4 separate regions of the Homo sapiens genome follow, and regions 1, 2 and 4 are each linked to region 3. The links come from fine-mapping of genetic effects on gene expression. A gene starts in region 3. Each other region holds a variant in brackets. All regions are shown on one strand. Distances are from middle to middle.

Region 1 (5,151 bases), 72 kb before region 3:
ATTCATGGGAACTGTACTGGTCAAGATCAAAACACAAGCCGTCCACTAAAATCAAGTGGCATAACTTTGATATTCTCTATGTTAAAGATAAATTTATTTCTAAAAAAAAAAAAAAAAAGCTGGGCACTGTGGCTCACACCTGTAAGCCCTGCACTTTGGGAGGCCGAGGCAGGTGGATCACCTGAGGTCAGGAGTTTGAGACCAGCCTGAGCCTGACCAACATGGTGAAACCCTGTCTCTACTAATACTACAAAAATTAGCCAGGCATGGTGGCACACGCCTCTAATCCCAGCTACTCGGGAGGCTGAGGCAGGAGAATCACTTGAACCCAGGAGGTGGAGGTTGCAGTAAGCCAAGATAGTGCCACTGCACTCCAGCCTGGACACAAGAGTGAAACATCGCCTCAAAAAAAAAAAAAAAGATATCCTGCTCAAGATTGAAATTACCATCGCTCCCATAGCTTCAAAGTAGAAAAACAAATAATTGCAATCTTTCTGTCATTGACAAAATGGCAGCGCAGAGCCTTAGTCAAATAAGAACCACAGCTGACAGCCAGCAAAGGTTGGCCCAACTGCTGTACAAAAACAAAAGACAAACCTCTTAAGCCAACCACAGCAAAGTGAAGAACTACTAAACCATTTGGGCACATACAACAAATGAAAACTAAAACACTCTAAACATTTTCTGGAAGTTGTTTTTTTTTAAGGGTTCTTATTGGATTTACTATTTATTAAATTGTAGATCAAATACTTCATACTTTGGCAAATAGTTTATTCAATACTTTGTAACATCCTACCCATATATCAACACTGTGGGCAATGATGCTAAGAAAATGCATTTCTTGGAAATAAGTAAAATAGGGGATGATTTTTGCCCTTCCAAGTACCCACTTTTGCATATTTCTTCCAGAACTCAGTAGAAATAGACATTTGTAGACATTTCCCAGGGTCAAGGAACTTGCACGTACTCTACGGAGCAATGCTGTAGGGTTTCACACCATAGACTCCTACCGGTGGCCTCCATACTTGGCCACCCAGTCTGTCCTCCCATGCACTGAGGGAATGGGCTGTGCACGGTTCACAATATTTAGGTTTTTTGCTGTAGGATTATAAGTACGTCCTGAAAACTGCCCCCGACCAGTTTTTGTGTTCCAGGTATATTCTGAAAGAAATCAGATTTGGAAAACAGGGTTTTACTCATTTGCTTATCAAACTCAAAATAAAGAAATTCATCCTCTCATTTGATGGGGAAAATCTGAATTTATGTTTAAAAGATTAACTCAGTACTCTCTGAGGCTTTTTAAATGTTAAAACCAAAAATTCTAGTGTAGTATTATGTTGACATCCATTAGAATTTCCAGTAGCTGGCCGGGCGCAGTGGCTCCTGCCTGTAGTCCTAGCACTTTGGGAGGCTGAAGCAAGTGGATCACCTGAGGTCAGGAGTTCGAGACCAGCCTGGCCAACATGGTGAAACCCTGTCTCTACTAAAAATACAAAAAAAATCAGCTGAGCGTGGTGGCGGGTGACTGTAATCCCAGCTACTCAGGAGGCTGAGGCAAGAGAATCACTTGAACCCGGGAGGCAGTGGTTGCAGTGAGCCGAGATCATACCATTGCACACCAGCCTGGGCGACAAGAGTGAAACTCCATCTCAAAAAAAAAAAAAAAGAATTTTCAGTAGCTGAAGAGCCAATATTATTCCTGGTTTATAGTGCTGACACTGCTGCTATTTTTAATATTTTACATTTAGATAGGCAACGCCAGGTAAGAAGACCAAGAAAATTTATTGGCTCAAATTCAATGGGCAACACCCACAGTGTTGGTGACTTTGTAATATCACACTGTGGTTACATCTAAATAATATTGACACAATATCACTACAGAAAAATGTATTTGGAATTGTGAATCTATAAAACTGTGGCTTCATGGAAGAACACACATGGGGTCCTATAATAGATTTCTTTTTAAACATTAAAATGTGGGTTTTAGAATGAAGATTTTTTTTTTTTTTTTTTTTTTTTTTTTTTTTTAATGAGGCAGAGTTTCGCCCTTGTTGCCCAGGCTGGAGTGCAATGGTGCGATCTCGGCTCACTGCAACCTCCACCTCCCGGGTTCAAGTGATTCTCTTGCCTCAGCCTTCTGAGCAGCTGGGATTACAGGGGCGCACCACCACGCCCAGCTAGTTTTTGTATTTTTAGTAGAGATGGGGTTTTGCCATGTTGGCCAGGCTGGTCTGGAACTCCTGACCTAAGGTGATCCACCCACCTCAGCCTTGCCAATGATCCACCCACCTCAGCCTCCCAAAGTGCTAGGATTACAGGTGTGAGCCATCGCACCCGGCCCATACTTCATTTCTCATTGGGAAAATCATGGGTGGGAACACAATTCCCTTAAATGGTAGGATCCTAAACTTTTAACCACAAGGTTGTTTCATTCATATATCTGACTGTTTAAAAATTTGTGAAAAATTTAAAATTTCTTGAACATTTGTTATCTGAACAATTTATGAGCTAAAACTGCTTCAACATTTCAAAGGACAAAGCAGGAG[A/T]TCATTTTACAGACAACTTTTGATGCCTTCTTCAGTCCCTCCTTCACGCTTTCCTCACCTCGAATTGAGAGCTAAGGTATCACAGGTATTGTATCTGAGGAGGGATGTCTGCTTTTTCCATCTGGGGTTTAAATATCTCTTCACACTGTGTAGTAGCTGCCATTCTTGGATTAAACTCTAAGTGTTAATACTGAAATGAATCTGACCATTTTGTACCCCTAGCCCTAGCTATCCCATATTTACTGGCATGGTTTGCACAGTTTTTCTTAAATTTTCACTGTATAACTGGGAGTGAGGAGGGAATTCTGTGAGCATGTGGTCCTGACAAGCTACTAACTTCAGCATGGGTGAACAAGGTATTAAGTGTGGACACTCTGGGTAAGACAGCCGCCTGGCTGCCGTGTAGTTTGGTGGAGGCAGGGAGGCCAAGAGCTCCCCACTCCATGGTTTGACAGGTCCTTTCATTCCACTCTTTTTACTGGGCTTAAAATTCTCAAAGTCAAAGCCACTAAAAAGCTATCTAACAAAGTCAGGGACAATGTGTCTACAAGGGCCAGTCAGGGCACCATGTTTTCCAGAAAGAGCCCTTTAGTTATAGCCATTGGAATAGAAACGAGCATCTGTCTGCTAAATTAGTGAGCTCACCCATGTGGGCCACAGGTCAAACTGGTAGCAGGGGTAGAAGAGACAGCGTGGGAGGGGAGTAGAGAGCGGGGAGAGAGGCAATAAGCCCCGCTTATTCAGGGAGGGAAAAGGGAACGTGGCATTAGGCTAATGGGTGTGGCTCTGAGGGCAAGAAGTGAGAGCTTTGGGGAGTAACAAAAAGAGAAGCCTTTTTCCAGGTCATGATATCACCTAAGTCCTAAATGGTTTTAAATGAAATTGTGTCCAGGACAATATTTTGTAAAACTTTTTCAAGAGGGAATCATTTTGCTAAGAAGGGGGTAGTGTTGAGATTTAGGATTCCTTTCCTAGATATACTAGAATTTCAGGACTCAAGTACCTTTGGTGAAGAACCTAACAGCTGAGAGGAGCCCAGATCTCGTGGCAGGGCAAGAAGTGCTTTTGTGCCTTAGTGGGACCACCCCACACCTCACTGCCCTGCAAGAGCGGGAGGGATAGTGAGCCTTGCAATGCTTGCTCTGTGTTTAAAAACTGCATCTGTCCTATCAAGGACATTTAACTTCTTGTAGAAAATCTATGCTAAAGGAAAGAAGTTTGCCTCTAGTTATGGATTTAATTGATGCCACTGTGATACAACTTTTAGCAACATATAAAACTTGTGTGAGATGCGGATCATAATAGTACCTCCTGGAATACAGCCCTGGGAGGATTAATGAGTTAATGTACACAGAGTGCTTAAAACAGGATCCTGCACTTCTAAAGTGATCCTAAAGGGTGCTGTGTAGAACAGAAGTCACTCCTCGAAGTCCTTGTTAGTTTCAAGGCAGGGGATAAGGAAGTATTAGGGGAAGGAGAGATTACATGGGAGGGAAGACATTGATTTTCCTTCTCAAAACTTAAAGGGTAGAGGCCAGGTGCGGTGGCTCATGCCTGTAATCCCAGCACTTTGAGAGGTCGAGGCAGGCAGATCACGAGGTCAAGAGATCGAGATCATCCTGCCCCATCTCTACTAAAAATACATAAATTAGCTGGGCGTGGTGGCACGCACCTGTAGTCCCAGCTACTCCGGAGGCTGAGGCAGGAGAATCGCTTGAACCCGGGTGGCAGAGGTTGCAGCAGGGAGCTGAGATCACGCCACTGCACTCCAGGCTGGTGACAGAGCGAGACTTTGTCTCAAAAAAAAAAAAAAAAAAAAACAAAAACAAAAATCTTGAAGGGGAGAAAGAAGAGCAAAGACGAGACTATGCAAGAAGGGGGAAATAGTTGAGTAAATATGGTAATGACCTGGTTTTATTTTCTTGTGGGAAACTGTCACCCAACTGGCATGACTGGAAGACACATCTCTTACAGAACAGTGTTTTTTCTAAGGATTTGCATTGACCACTTGAGAGTGATTAATATTTACTTCATTTTTTACCTTTCCTCCTATCACCATCTGTAGAAAAATCTGATAAGCAGAGTAAAGAAATAAAAAGTTAAGAAAAAGCATTTACTTAAAAAAAATGAAAACAGGAATATGCATGCTAATTGGATAGAATAATTAATATATAAAGGCCTTCAATATCTTACAAAAATATTTTTTAAAAGACCCACTCTTGATTTATAAGAGTAGATACCTAGGTAACAAAATAATTTGAAACATTATGATTTTCTGCCTTTATATTAAAAATATAAAATGTGGCCGGGTGCAGTGGTTCATGCCTGTAATCCCAGCACTTGTGGGAGGCTGAGGCAGGTGAATCATTTGAGGTCACGAGTTCAAGACCAGCCTGACCAACACAGTGAAACTGCGTCTCTACTAAAAATACAAAAAAAATTAGCTGGGCATGGTGGTGCATGCCTGTAATCCCAGCTGCTTGGGAGGCTGAGGCAGGAGAATCGTTTGAACCCGGGAGGTGGAGGTTGCAGTGAGCTGAGATCACACCACTGCACTCCAGCCTGGGCAACAGAGCAAGACTCCATCTCAAAATAAATAAAATTT
Region 2 (5,151 bases), 100 kb before region 3:
CTGGAGGCGGAGATTGCAGTGAGCCGAGATCGCACTGCACTCCAGCCTGGGAGACAGAGTGAGACTCCGTGTCAAAAAAAAAAAAAAAAAACAGATGGTTTACCAAGGAATATCTTTGGAAATCCCCGTGAACATGTGCAAAGGAATCTGTAGGTTACATTCCTAAACGCTGTGTCAGAGCATCTCAGCAGTTCAAGTTGTGATTGCCCTCAGAAGAAAATGCACCAATTTACCCTACTTCCAGTGGTGGCTAACTTTGTGGAATTGGACTTTTTAAAAATCTTTGACACATGAAGCTAGGAGTCTGCAAACTTTTTCTGTAAAGGGCCAGATATGAATATTTTAGGCTTCGCAGGCCATCTTTGTCCCAGCTGCTCATCTCTGCCTTTGTAGGATGAAAGCAGCCATAGCCAATAAGTAAATAAGCAAGGGTGACTGTTCCAATAAAACTGTACTTATGGGCCTTGAAATCTGGATTTCATATGATTTCTACATATTACAAAATAGTAATCTTATTTTTATTTTCTTCAACCATTTAAAAATGCAAAACCGTTCTTAGCTTGCTGTCTGCACAAAAACAGGCAATGGACTAGAATTAGCTCACTGACCATAGTCATGCCACCCCCGATCTACCCAAAAAATGTTATCTAATGGTTTCAGTGATTTAGTTATGAATTATTACATCTTTCATACATTTATTGACCAGTTATATTTTTTCTGTGAGCAGTCTTTCATCCCTTTTGTCCATGTTTTTGGTTTTTTTGTTTTTTAATTGAAAACATTGGATAGTCTGAGACTTTCTATGTAGTATAAAAATGTGTTCCCTATCATATGTATTGAAAATATTTTCCTCTCACTTGTTATTTGTGTCTCGATTTTGTTTATGTGTTTTTTTTGCCGTTGTACAGAAAGTAAACATTTATGAAATCAAATTTATTATATTTTCTTTATGGCTTTCAGATTGAAACCACTATTGCAATTTTTTTTTTTTTTTGAGACGGAGTCTTGCTCTGATGCCCAGGCAGGAGTGCAGTGGTGCCATCTCGGCTCACTGCAACCTCCGCCTCCCAGGTTCAAGCAATTCTTCTGCCTCAGCCTCCTGTGTAGCTGGGACTACAGGCACGTGTCACCACGCCTGGCTAATTTTTTGTATTTTTAGTAGAGATGGGGTTTCACCGTGTTAGCCAGGATGGTCTCGATCTCCTGACCTTGTGATCCGCCCCCCTCGGCCTCCCAAAGTGCTGAGATTACAGGTGCGAGCCACCCCGCCTGGCCAGCATTGCAAAATTATAACTGAGACAGTGAAAGAGATCTGACCTAACCAACGCCATCTTGCTTCTACCGTCCAAGCTGTCCTTGTTCATTCTGGTGTGGGCTGAACTAACTGTGGGAAGAACTTAGTTTATAGTTTATTTATTCAATTTTTTCTGAGTTGGAGTCTTGCTCCATTGCCCAGGCTGGAGTGCAGTGGCACGATCTCAGCTCACTGCAACCTCTGTGTCCTGGGTTCAAGGGATTCGCCTGCTTCAGCCTCCCAAGTAGCTGGGATTACAGGCGCATGCCACCATGCCTGGTTAATTTTGTATTTTTAATAAAGACGGGGGTTTCACCATGTTGGCCAGGCTTGTCTTGAACTCTTGACTTCAAGTGGTCCACTCGCCTCGGCCTCCCAAAGCGATGGGATTACAGGCGTGAGCCACCATACCTGGCCTGAAATTATCTTATTTTCTTCCAATGCTTTTATAGTTTTATCTTTTAGGTTTCTATTTTTAAAATTTATTAATTAACAAATAATTGTCCATATTATGGGGTACAATGTGATGTGATGTTTTAATCTCTGTATGTATTATAGAAAGATTCAATCAAGCTAAGCTGTCATATTACCAAATTACCATTTCTTGTGTGGTGAGAGCACTTCTATTTTTAATGCTACTTTAGAATTTATTTTTGTGTGTGATGGTGCAAATTAGGGATCTGATTATTTTCTCCAAAATATAGCCATTACCTTAATATTATTTATTGAAAAATGTTAATTCCTCATTGCTTTGGAATGCCACTTTTACCATGTGCTGAATTTCTGTATTTGGAATTGATTCTGGGTTTTCTAGCCTCTTCCAGGGATTTCTTTATTTTCTGTCCCAGTGCCAAATTGTATTAATTACTGTAGCTTTGTACCATATGCTGATATTTAGTCGGACAAGTCTGTCGTTGCTTTTCAGATTTTTCCTGACACAGTAACTTTACAAGCTAAATCTGGAATTAGCCTTTCTGCTTGTTTGTTTTTTTATTTTTTTTCCTTTTTTGTTAGAATTAGCCTTTTAATTTTTAAATTTTACTTGGGATTTTATTATGACACATTGATAGATAATGAAGGAGATTGAAAGCTTTAAAATATTTCCTCTTATCCAGGAACATTGTATGTTCCTTCATTTAATTCAGGTGTTTTGTTTGTTTGTTTGTTTGTTTTGAGACAGAGTCTTTGTCTGTTGCCCAGGCTGGAGTGCAGTGGCGTGATCTTGGCTCACTGCAACCTCCGCCTCCTGGGTTCAAGTGATTCTCCTCCCTCAGCCTCCCAAGTAGCTGGGATTACAGGCGTGCACCACCACAGCTAGCTAACTTTTGTATTTTTAGTAGAGACGGGGTTTCACCATGTTGGCCAGGCTGGTCTTAAACTCCCAACCTCAGGTGATCCACCTGCCTCAGCCTCCCAAAGTGCTGCGATTACAGGTGTGAGCCACTGCACCCAGACTTTTTTTTTTTTTTTTGAGACAGTGTCTCGCTCTGTCGCCCAGGCTAGAGTGCAGTGGCATGATCTCAGCTCACTGCAACTTCTGCCTCCCAGGTTCAAGCAATTGTCCTGCCTCAGCCTCCCAAATAGCTGGGATTACAGGAGCCTGCCACCACACCTGACTAATTTTTGTGTTTTTAGTAGAGGCAGCATTTCGCCATGTTGGCCAGGCTGGTCTTGAACTCCTGACCTCAGGTGATCTACCCACCTCAGCTGGCAAATGGATTACAGGCATGAGCCACCACACCCGGCAAGTTCAGGTTTTTTAAAAAATGTCCTAAAACAATATTTTAGAGCTTTATTCACATAGTACTTTACACTTTTAGTAAGATCGTGGATTATTTTATAGTTTTGTGGTATTTTGAATTTTTTGTATTTTATAGTATTTTATAGTTTT[G/A]TTATTATGAATGGGTACTTTTTCATGTATTTTCTAACTAGATATCAGTCTGAACAAAATGAATTCCTGACGTTAATATTGCTGCTTCTGTCACCTCACTCAAGCATATTACTTGCTTTCGGTTTTTATGAGCTACTTTTTATCTGATTCTATGGCTTTATGTTAAAGTTAGAAATAATAGGATGTTTACTATCACTGGCAACATTCAACATAGTTCTAGAGAAATTAGACAAAGCAATAAAAAAGATAATTTGAGAGGTATAAATTAATAGTAGAAAATAACTTAAACATTTTTAACAGCTGATAATTATCTATCTGGAAAATCCACGAGAAGCAACTAAAAACCGATTGGAACTAACAGAGATCTTTAAAGCAGCAAGAAACAAGATCAACACTGAAAACGAATAGCTTTCTATCAATAGCCATAATCCATTCTCTCCCATAATATTGCTAATGTCCAAGTCCAACCCTTTCTATCTTTTACCTGGTTATTTAAATAATCTTCTGCAAGGAATACTTCTTTTCATGCTATGGCCCTATAAGTCATTCTTTACCCAGCAGGCAGAGGCATAGCTCAAGTATAGACTTCTAGACTTAAAACTACTCAATGGTCCCTGACTACACTTACATTTCTCTTTTAGCTCTTATAACATCCTGTTCTTTTTCTTAATAGCACTCGTCACAATTTGCAAACATACATGTTTTTGTGTGTTTATTGAATATCTGCCTCTAGAATAAATGTTGTATAAAGGCAGGAAAAACAACACTTTTGTTACTACCATATATACTTAGAACACAGTAGGGAATTTAGTAAGTCTTTGCTGAATACATTGATCAAATCTACTGGGTGTTTTTTTTGTTTGTTTGTTTGTTTGTTTTGAGTCAGAGTCTTGCTCTGTTGCCCAGACTGGGGTGCAATGGCATGATCTCGGCTCACTGCAACCTCCATCTCTCAGGTTCAAGTGATTCTCGTGCCTCAGCCTCCCAAGTAGCTGAGATTACAGGCACCTGCCACCATGCCTGGCTAATTTTTGTATATTTAGTAGAGACGGGGTTTCACCATGTTGGCCAGGCTGGTCTTGAGCTCCTGACCTCAGGTAATCTGCCCACCTCAGCCTCCCAAAGTGCTGGGATTACAGGCATGAGCCACCGCGCCCGGCCAATGGTAAGTATTTGAATATCTAAACATAATTAAGCACAGAAAATGGATAGTAAAAATATGGTTTTATAATCTTACAGTATTCGCATCATAAACGTGGTCTCTCATTGACCAAAAACATAGTTAATGTGGCACATGACTATATATTGAGTGATTTCTATTGAATTCTGGACACATTTGTGTTATGTTATGAGACACTGGCTCTTATTTATTTTTTAAGACAGAGTCTCGGCCGGGCGCGGTGGCTCACGCCTGTAATCCCAGCACTTTGTGAGGCTGAGGCAAGCAGATCACGAGATCAGGAGATCAAGACCATCCTGGCTAACACAGTGAAACCCCGTCTCTACTAAAAATACAAAAAATTAGCCAGGCGTGGTGGCGGGCGCCTGTAGTCCCAGCTACTCCAGAGGCTGAGGCGAGAGAATGGCGTGAACCTGGGAGGCGGAGCTTGCAGTGAGCCAAGATCGTGCCACTGCACTCCAGCCTGGGCGACAGAGCGAGACTCCGTCTCAAAAATAAAAAATAAAAATAAAAATAAAAAGAGTCTCTATTTGTCTCCCAGTTTGGAGTGCAGCGGTGTGATCTCGGCACACTGCAACCTCCGCCTCCTGGGTTCAAGCGATTTTCGTGCCTCAGCCTCCCGAGTAACCGGAATTACAGGCGCACACCACCACGCCTAATTTTTGTATTTTTAGTAAAGACGAGGTTTCACCATGTTTACCAGGCTCGTTTCGAACCGACCTCAAGTGATCCGCCTGCCTCGCCGTCCCAAAGTGCTGGGATTACAGGCGTGAGCTCCGGCCTCTG
Region 3 (5,151 bases):
AAAAGGACATATGACTTGAGAAGGGAATGGAAGAGGGAGCTGCCTCTGGTTGCATGGTAATGATGGTAGCGAGTGTTATTCAGGAAGTGGAAACACAAAGAGTGACAAAAAAATCACCTTCATTGGCCCAACAATCTAAAAATTAAGAATTAATTACACCTCTCTCTTCCACTATTAAGGCCATCAGCCACCCCCATCACCACCGCCCTGGGGTGGGAGGGTGACCTGAAGCTGCACCAGCACTATCAGCACAATAGAGCATTCAGTCACTGATGACTTTCGACCCAAGCCTGCGTGCACAGTCTCTTTGCGAGTGGCTATTTTGGCAACTTCATTCCAAGCCTAACCAATCAACTTCTGAATAAACACCGGCAACACCAATTGTCTTTCAACGGATGATGGCTATAGGATAGGGTGTACTTATATTGAGGGAAGAATAAGCAAGGAACACGACCATTTCCCAGCTCCTTTCTGTTTGAGGGGTGGAGTGTTGAGGATTACGGACGTGACATAGATTTTTAAAAGGTCAGATTAGTGGTTCTGTGAGGATCTGTCCCATTTAAGCCCTACCTAACCTTTAAGTAAAACAACTTTACATACTGCGCTCCCTAAGAAAAAACTTTGGAAAGGCTTCTTTTGAACTACATTAATTACAAAATCAACAGCTGCCCAGGGTGAGACGCTGATCATTGCAACTGTTCCTTCTATCCCCTGAACATACAATTGTCTAATGTAGAGACATAGACATCAAGGTAAAGCTTTTAAAAAATCATTATTCCATGTCCCTGCTCCCTGATAGCACATAAGCAACTACTTTTATCAATGTGGCATAGCAACTACTGATTACTAATCAAAAAGCAGTCTATGTTCCTTAAACACAGGCTTCCCATGGTTCTCCAGTTCACGCACAATAATATTTCTCTACAAGTTACATATATTCTTCTCTGTTGACCTATGGAAAACTAATCTACAAAATAGGAATATATTAACACAGTTTCTTATGTACATGAATATATATAGATATGATACATATGCAACAAAAAACCCAAGTAAATATAACTATCATCCTCAATTTAACAGAATTGTTAAAAACTTGGAATTTTCTACAATCAAGCTATAACATTTATTGACCTTCCTATGGGTTAAAGAAAAAGATGCTTATTTAGAGGCTTAATTATAGACCTACACAAAAATAAATACCCTTATAATTTATCTCTCATTCTAGTTTTCAACTTTTTAATCTAAGTTCATAATTACCGTTTCTCTAAGTGCACAATTGTTGTAAATATAGCCTTTACTCTCAACAGCTTTTGCCAGCTAATAAGAGATTCAGATAGGATTAAAGAAGATTAGCAAAGAGGGCAAATGAAGGGTAAAACAAGCGTCTGCCAAAAACTGAAGAGATAAGGCTTGGATGTCTTCAACGTGGCTTTCTAGAACATATTATGTCACTCCGAGGCTGGCTTAACGCTTCTAATACACAACAAAAGAGTAATTAACGTTTTAAAAGTCACCAAACTCTTTAAAAAGCAACGCAGGAAAAAAAGATCCCAAACTAACCAAGTCGAAGTTTTACAGAAATTAAATGAGCTATTACAATGGGAAAACAAAGACTGTATCTTAAAATATAAAAGCACAGTTCTCTGTGCTCATATTCACAAATTATTTCAAAGCTTATACACAAAAAAAGTCCACCCCGACGAAGAGATTAAACGTCCTGCCCGGTGCCTGCAGTGGAAGCAGGCGGTGGCGCGGTTGGGGGAACTTTCTCCCTCCCGGTCAAGCCTCGGGAATTGAAGGGCCGGGGAGGCGGGGCCCGATCGAAAAGCTGGAAAGTCACTTTTGTTTTCACCATTATTTCACTTAATGGGTTGTGTTTCTGAATAAATAAAGTCAGATAACTTTGGCTTCCCTCTTTGAGAATTCCGTTATCATTAGAACAAATGTCTGTTTCTTTTAAACGATTATCTAACCACATTTGCATACAGCTCTTTCCTTGTAGGATTGAGATTACTAACCACTAAAAACCAGTTTTATTGCTCTCGACACCGCACTCTCGACCTGTCCCTAAATTAAAACGGATTACTTGCAGAAAAGGGACAGTTTTCGTCACACACTTTCTGATCCGACTCTGCAAACCAGGGCTCTTAAAAGGCTCCAGGGACCGCGTGGTGGAAGGAGGGGGCGTCCCCGGGCGCCGGGAGTCCGGCGCCGTTGGGGGGGACGGGGGTGTGCGGAATTCCACTTTCACCTGAGCGTCCTTTGGGATGCACCAGCGAGGGCTGGAGTCGGACCTAATTCCTGTTTTTCTCCCTCCTTTTAGATTTTGCAACAGTTCTGAACTCAGTTCCGCTGCCTCCCTGAGACCCAATCCTGCCTCTCTGTCCTAAAAACAGTTTCCACCGCCAGCCCAAGCAGCAGGGGAGCAGAGGTGGGAGATCCCGGAGGAGAGTTTAGGGGCGGGGGTCTCAGGCTAAGGGACGCCCGGCCGTCATCCTCCCACGCCAGGCCGGCCCCCGCGGTCCAGGAGGCGGGAAAGTGGTCAAGAGGTCTGGGAGACACCGACCGCCTTCCCTCGGGCTGACCACTCCCGCCCGCTCCGCCCCTCCGGGGACCCTCCTCCCTCCAGTCCTTCCCCTACCGGCGTCAGGGACCGGTCTCCGGGCGGAGATTGGCCCTGGTAGCACAGGGCGCCGAGGGGACATGCCCGGCCAGCCTCGCAGGTCGGGCTCCGGCTGGGTCGGACAGAGGGTGGTGGCCCTGCAGCCCGCTGGGGATTACCTGTCCGCGCCTGCTGCTTACCTCGTTCGCTCCCTTGTGAAGCTCCGGCGTCTTGTGTGTTTCATCTCCTAGGAAACGGCGGGGGCAGCAGGCGGGCCTACGGCCGGCCCAGAGAGGGCGTGGCCTCGCGGGAAATCCCCGCCAATTCCCGCAGGCCCCGCCTTCCCCGGGGCGGGGCTTCATGGAGCCGGGGGACTGTCGGCTGAGCTGCAGCAAGTGTGCCATTTAGACTTGGGGTTTAGGGGAGTTGATTACCTTTTCAGTCAGGTCTTTGTCAGAAGTTGGTTTGTTTGCCCTTTATTTTGTTTTGGTTTTGTTCCGATTCATTCTACAAAGTCTTGATTAATTAAAATATGGTTCCCAGACCGGGCAGAGCAAGAGAAGGAAGTCTGTTTGCCTCATACTTGCACTTGTTTACTTGTGCCTGGGGAAAAACTGTTCTTGTATGCAGTTCCTTAAATTGGTCAATTCCTTGGGTATGTATTACCTCTTGAGCTGCCCTTCTAAGTTTGTTTCCATTTATTCATTCAGAGAACCTGCCTAGTATCAGCCACAGAGTTAGATAGTGGTAATTCCAAGAAAAATGACTGAATGTGTGAATAAATGGGTAAATTGTAACTAGTCTAGAATTTAGAGAGGAAGGCACACTTGTGTTACTGCAAATAGTTCAGATTGGCTGGCAAAAAGGGTCTACGAAACAGAAACATAAGTGATGAAGCAGTGGTGCGGCAAGTTAGTAATTATTAGGTGTCAGGATGTGGGCTTGGGACCAAGAATAGCGCCAAGGTAGACACGACAGACATGCCTGTGGCCCTCACAGCTTAAAGTGAAGTAGGCTTTCACGCGTATGTTTATGGCAGCACAATTCACAATTGCAAAGATGTGGAACCAATCTAAGTGCCCATTGACTAATGAGTGGATAAAGAAAATGTGGTATATATACACCATAGGCTGCTACTCAGTCACAAAAAAAGAATGAAATAATGTCTTTTGCAACAACTTGGAAGAGTGGGAGGTCCTTATTCTACGCAAAGTAATACAGGCGTGGAAAACCAAAAACTGTATGTTCTCACTTATAAGCAAAAGCCAAGCTATGAGTATGCAAAGGCATACACAGTGAAATAATGGACTTTGGAGACTCAGAAAGGGGAGGATGGGAGAGAGCCTAGGGATAAAAAAAACTATGCACTAGGTACCATATACACTACTCAGATGATGGGTGCACTAAAATCTCAGAATTCACCACTATATAATTCATCTATGTAACAAAAAACCACTTGTACCCCAAGAGCTATTGAAATAAACATTTAAAAACAGACGGGGCTCAGTGGCTCATGCCTGTAATCCCAGCACTTTGGGAGGCCCAGGTGAGTGGCTCACCTGAGGTCAGGAGTTCAAGACCAGCCTGGCCAACATGGTGAAACCCCATCTCTACTAAAAATACAAAAAATATCTGGGTGTGGTGGCACATGCCTGTAATCCCAGCTACTCGGGAGGCTGAGGCAGGAGAATCACTTGAACCCAGGAGGCAGAGGTTGCAGTGAGCGGAGAACGTGCCACTGCACTCCAGCCTGGGTGACTGAGCAAGACTCTGTCTCAAAATAATAATAATAATAAATGGCCAGGCGCGGTGGCTCATGCCTGTAATCCCAGCACTTTGGGAGGCCGAGGTGGGCGGATCACCTGAGGTCGGGAGTTTGAGACCAGTCTGACCAACCTGGAGAAACCCCATCTCTACTAAAATGCTAAAACTACAAAAAATTAGCCAGGCGTGGTGGCGCATGCCTGTAATCCCAGCTACTTGGGAGGCTGAGGTAGGAGAATAGCTTGAACCCAGGAGGCGGAGGTTGCAGTGAGCTGAGATCACACCATTGCACTCCAGCCTGGGCAGCAAAAGCAAAACTCCGTCTCAATAATAATAATAATAAATAAAAGATTCATTGCTCTCCAATAAATAAGTGAAGTAGGCAGGCAAAGTAAAAAGCATAAGTTAGATAGGTCATAGCAGCTTTATATACCCAGTTATGAAGCCTAAGCTTTAACATGTGTCAATGAGGAAGACCAGTGAAGAATCTCCCACAGAAGAGTGACATGTTCACATTTGCATTTCAGAAAGATCCCAAGAGGAGCAGTGGGTAGGGTGGATTTGAGCTGCAAGTCTGGAGGCAAGAGAAAGATTGGGAGTCTTTCTCCCAACTGACTGGGAAGAAATGATAAGGATCCAACTCTAGCAGTGATGATGGAAATAGGACAGAGAAAGACAGAATTCAAGGGATGTTTAGGAGTTAAAATCGGCAGGACCATCAGGCTTAGATGACTGGTGGATAGTGGTATCCATGACCAAGTTGGAAAATAATAGAGGAGGAGCTG
Region 4 (5,132 bases), 85 kb before region 3:
AGAGAAAACGCCACACTTTGAGACGAATTAAGAGTCTGTTTATTTAGCTGGGGCCTAAAAGACGGCTAACACTCAAAGTTCTCTCGGCCTTGAAGAAGGGGCTAGATTTTCTTTTATACTTTGGTTTAGAATGGGGTGGGGGGGGGGTCTAGTTAAAACAATTTTACTGAAGTAAAGTAGGCAAAAAAGTTAAAAGGATAAATGGTTACAGGAAAGTAAACAGTTCCAGGTGCAGGGGCTTTAAGACTATTACAAGGTGATGGACGCGGGGCTTTGGGCATTATCAATCGGACGAATTCCTGGGAACTGCGGATATAGCTCGCCACAGTATCTTATCAGTTAATTGCATTCTTGGATGTGCTGGGAGTCAGCTTGCACAAGTTAAGTCCTTGAGGACGGGGCTGCCAGTGAAAGAGCCAAGATGGAGTCTGTCTGGCTCTCTTAGCTAAGGAAGAGTCAATTCAGGTGGAAACAAGGCTAGGTGATTAAAGGAAAGGGAGAGTCTAAAAACAGGGTTAGTAAAAACAAGGTTAGGCATTACAAAAGAAGGCCTAGTCATAGTTCTGTCTAAGGAGGGAAGATGGCCTTCTTTCCTTTCCTTAGATGGAAGTGCCCTGCCTATTAGAGGAGAGAAAAATGGGGTGGGAAGACCCTGACTTCTCTGAGAAGATAGCACACTCTCCTTAACGCCTTCCTGCTTGAGTCCACCTTGGCTGTGAGCTGTGTTGAGAGTTCTTTGTGCTGTCCTTTGTAGGGCAGGAGGTCTGGTGGATTCCGTTAGTGAAATAAGTGCCTGACATTACAATGCAAGCTGCGTTTGCTTCCTTCTAGGCAGCGTGCCGTCCCTGGCTGCAGGGCTGCTCTTCGGCAGTCTAGCCGGCCTGGGTGCTTACCAGCTGTATCAGGATCCAAGGAACGTTTGGGGTTTCCTAGGTATGTCTGCTTCAGCGTCTCCTTAGGGCAATCATGTATCTGGAATATTCTTTTCCAAAAGACCCTGGTTTGGTGGGATGGAGCGAGTTCTTCCCACTTAATTTACGACAGTTTCACTGCTTCTCCAAGTCCAAGTCCTCAAAGTTTTAAAATAGGAGAAGGGTGGTGGGAATTGTCCTGGTTCCTGTTTATTGTTTATGTAGATAATATGGAAAGATTTCCATACCTTGTGAATTGTGTGACTCTCAGAAAGTCATCCATCCTCTGTGGGCCTTATTTTCAGTGTTTACCCAGTAGAATTAGTATCAAACTTGTATTACCCATATTTACCCAGTAAAGTCAGCATTAAACTTGTATAAGACAAATATGTGTCAACCGTTGAGGTTTTCCGCTGAAGACCATTGGCCTCAGTATCACTAAAATATCACGTATCTGGGTTAGGTTTGCAGCTGCGTTACGTTTTTCACATTTGAAAATCACCTCTTTAGCAGTCAGCTAACTAAATATATAAGACGTAGACCATGCTTTCAAGGAGCTTTCAACTGACTTCACTGGGGAAGTAAGACATGAGCATAGAAGCAGGACTGGAAAGGTACCCTGTGAGCAGCACGGACAGTGAGGACAGTGAGTGGTGTGGAGGACATAAGAGTCCTCATCAGAGTGGTTTTCAGTACATTTCTGTGGAGCTCCACCCATGTGTCAGACACTGCTATGAGTGTGGGTTCCTTGCGGTCTCTACAAACCCCGTGTGAGAATGAGTGCCATGTGGGAGGGAGAAGCCGTGTGATCTGTACATATCAGCTGGGGTGGGGAAGGGAGGTCCGTGATGGCTAATGGGGTGTGCTGGGGAAGGAGGTGTGTCCAGGTCCCAGCTCTGCCTAACAGCTCCCTCCCTCATGCTCCAGAATGACTTGAGCCTGCATTTTCCCTTTCTCTGATCCTACTCCACTCAGCAAATGACCTCACACCTATTGTAGAGAAAAAACAGCAGCCATCAGGTGGGGACTCCTGGAGCCTTTAATCTCCAAGCCTCCCCTCGTCCTGTTTCCCTCCTTTCCAACACCAGTGTCTTCCTCTGGGCTTTGGGTGTCTTCTCCCTGACCGTCTCCAGACCTTTACACTGGCCAGGATCCTGTCTTGTATTTGTATTCCTCCTTTTAGGTGGATCCCCGCATTGATATTCAGATGTGCTTGTCTCCTTCCCCTTCATAAACTACCTTTTTTTTTTTTTTTTTTTTTTGAGACGGAGTCTCACTGTGTTGCCCAGGCTAGAGTGCAGTGGCGCGGTCTTGGCTCACTGCAACCTCCGCCTCTTGGATTCAAGTGGTTCTCCTGCCTCAGCCTTCTAGGTAGTTGGGATTACAGGTGTCTCCCACCATGTCAGGCTAACGTTTGCATTTTTAGCAGGTGCAGGGTTTTTGCCATGTTGTCTGGGCTGGTTTGGAACGCCTGACCTCAGGTGATCTGCCCACCTTGGACTCCCGAAGTGCTGGGATTACAGCCATGAGGCAGCACGCCCAGCCAAGAGGGAAAGAGGGAGGGAGTGGGAGGCCAAAAGCCTACAGCACCT[G/C]GTGTTTCCCCGAAGGTGGGGTGGTAGTCTCCCATCCAAGTACCATGCAGGACCGGACCGACCCTGCTTTGCTTCTGGGATCAGACAAGATCTAGCACATTCAGGGTGGTATGGCGGTAGACCACAAACTTCTTAAAGATCATTTATGCAGCTGGGCGCGGTGGCTCACTCGTATAATCCCAGCACTTTGGGAGACCGAGGCAGGCGGCTCACCTGAGGTCGGGAGTTGGAGACCAGTCTGACCAACTTGGAGAAAGCCCCATCTCTACTAAAAATACAAAATTAGCCGGGCTTGGTGGCTGTCACCTGTAATCCCAGCCACTCAGGAGGTTGAGGCAGGAGAATCGCTTGAACCCGGGAAGTGGAGGTCGCGGTGAGCCGAGATGACGCCACTGCACTCCAGCCTGGGCAACAAGAGCGAAACTCCGTTTCAAAAAATAAAGATCATTTATGCCTCCTCTCCCATCACACATGATCAGCCCATTTCAGTCTCTGTTTCTGTCCCTGTGTTTGTGGAATAGCTCTCCCTGAGGCTGCCAGTGACCTGTGTTTGTACAAAATCCAATGTACATTTTTCAGTCCTCATTTTACTTGGCCATTTAGCAGTTCTCAGCACGGTTGACCAATCATTTTCCATTCTCCTGGTTTCCCTTTTTATCCTCTCATTCTCTTTTGGCAACCTATTTTCCTTTTTGGCCACTAGATATTGAAGTTCTTCAGGCTCTTCTTGTCTACTCACTTGACAGTTTCATTGAAGCCTATGCCTTTAATTTCCACCGATACACAAATGACACAAATTTCTCTCTCCTCCAGGCTGGACTCTCATGTATTCATCTGTCCACTTTCCTTCAGATGTCTCCAGGAATCTGCCCGGACCTAACCTCATGGCCACACACTCCCCCTGTCTTCTGTTCTCCATCCATTCGGTTCTTGATTGCTCTCTTTCCTTTCTACCACCCCCTTTCTGACTAATTCATCAGCAGGTCTTGTCGACACTACCTCTAGCCCTTATCCTGAGTTGTCCTCTTTTTCATCTGCACAGCCATCGTCCTAGTCCCAGTTATCCCCTCTTTCTTACCTGCATTCCCAAGGACGTTCCTTAGCTGGTATCCCCATGTACCCTCTAGTTTCCCTGAAGTTTGTTCTCTATAGTATAGCTAGAATTACGCTTTCAAAATGCAACTCTGGGCCGGTTGCGGTGGCTCCTGCCTGTAGTCCTAGCACTTTGGGAGGCCAAGGCAGGCGGATTGCCGAGCTCAGGAGTTGGAGACCACCCTGGGCAACATGGTGAAACCCGGTCTCCACTAAAATTAAAAAAGGCTTCAGCATTGCTTGAACCTGGGAGGTAGAGGTTGTAGTGAGCTGAGATCATGCCACTGCACTCCAGCGTGTGTTGCAGAGTGAGACTCTGTCTCAAAAAATAATAATAATAATGCAACTCTTTTTATGCATCCCTCTGCTTAGTATCCTTTAATAGCTTCTCATTGCTCTTATGATGAAAACCCAATCCTTAGTATGGCCTTCAAGGCTCTATGTGGTCTGGCGCCTCTTACTCACAAACTGCATCTTGACTTCTGTGCCACGCTGCCCTTTTAGGGTGAATGTGCCATGCTCCCTGTCACCACAGGGCCTCTGCATATACTGTCCCCTCTGCCTGGAAAGGGCATTCCCATCCTTCAGCTTATTAACGCCTGCTGTAATTTCAGATCTCAGTCAGTCTTCACTTCCTTGGCTAAAAGCCTAGCATGATCTCCCTGAATAGGTTGATCCCCCTGTTGAGCTTTTTTGTGTAGCATCAATTATACCTGAAGCACACATTGTACCTTGTTTTTCTTTGTGTGATTGTTTAAAGTCTTGTCCCATCAGACCTGAAGCATTGTAAAAGGGCAAAGACAGTTACGATTACTTTTGTATTCTCCAGCTCCTAGCACAGCGCTTGACATGTAGTAGGTGCTTTGACAGATACCCAGTGGGAATTGCATGCAGGGTAGAGGAAATAGCGTCTGCAGGGCGATAGCATCTGCAGGGCATGAGAAACAACAGCATTTTGGAGAAAACTAACACATTGATGGCTAAAGTGTGGGTTTTGCAGAAGACAAGTGGTAAGAGATGAGGCTGGAAGGGCAGGTAGGGCCCAGGCTGTGAAGGGCCCTATTTGGCCAGTATTGGTATTTGGACCCATAGGATGTGGGCAGCTAGTAATCTCCCCTACTTGGGGAAGGAGGAATAAGCATAGGATGAGGCGTGAGCCTTGAGAGATTGGTGGGGCTTGGTCTACTTCTGATTCCCCTGCGTAGAAGACTAATGAGTTTTGACCCTTCTTTGTATCTTTTTCAGCCGCTACATCTGTTACTTTTGTTGGTGTTATGGGAATGAGATCCTACTACTATGGAAAATTCATGCCTGTAGGTTTAATTGCAGGTGCCAGGTACTTTCATTCTATTACTCTTCTTTACCATGTAGAGTTCAGTTTATTGCCCAGAATACTTTATGCATTCAAAACCTTACTTGTTTCAGAGTATCTGATGCTATGCATCAACTGACGTTTGACTTATACACTAATAGGAGATGCTTCAAAAACAATAGTTGATTTAATGTCAAATGACATGAGTATATCCATTCACTGTGG

Which allele goes with the higher level. Alleles are on the strand shown, and positions count from the first base shown. SD is a standard deviation of normalised expression in the study named. Not every link is listed here.
As copies of A replace T in region 1, the expression in monocytes after LPS of the gene that starts at base 2,839 in region 3 goes down (large effect, 1.5 SD a copy in Fairfax 2014).

Evidence for each region. PIP is the estimated chance that this variant, and not a neighbour inherited with it, causes the effect.
Region 1: its variant is the best candidate, but not a certain one, in a credible set for the expression of MAK in monocytes after LPS (Fairfax 2014, PIP 0.84).
Region 2: its variant is the best candidate, but not a certain one, in a credible set for the expression of MAK in whole blood (INTERVAL, PIP 0.74).
Region 4: its variant is the best candidate, but not a certain one, in a credible set for the expression of MAK in whole blood (INTERVAL, PIP 0.84).

What each region holds. Positions count from the first base shown.
Region 1 is chr6:10,763,446-10,768,596 of GRCh38, forward strand. It overlaps MAK (male germ cell associated kinase), which reads right to left. Exons shown (of 15, transcript NM_001242957.3): 15 at 1-1,161. The coding sequence ends at 1,007. Among named protein-coding and RNA genes, the nearest start is that of TMEM14B, 18 kb to the left of the region's middle. The variant A/T (reference allele first, on the strand shown) is at 2,547.
Region 2 is chr6:10,734,768-10,739,918 of GRCh38, forward strand. No RefSeq gene overlaps it. Among named protein-coding and RNA genes, the nearest start is that of TMEM14B-DT, 10 kb to the right of the region's middle. The variant G/A (reference allele first, on the strand shown) is at 3,186.
Region 3 is chr6:10,835,701-10,840,851 of GRCh38, forward strand. MAK (male germ cell associated kinase) reads right to left here and starts at 2,839. Exons shown (of 15, transcript NM_001242957.3): 1 at 2,803-2,839. RefSeq lists a silencer at 2,902-3,031 and enhancers at 3,252-3,311, 3,362-3,521.
Region 4 is chr6:10,750,302-10,755,433 of GRCh38, forward strand. It overlaps TMEM14B (transmembrane protein 14B), which reads left to right. Exons shown (of 6, transcript NM_030969.5): 4 at 832-933; 5 at 4,841-4,931. It also overlaps the pseudogene RNA5SP203. Among named protein-coding and RNA genes, the nearest start is that of TMEM14B, 5.1 kb to the left of the region's middle. The variant G/C (reference allele first, on the strand shown) is at 2,504.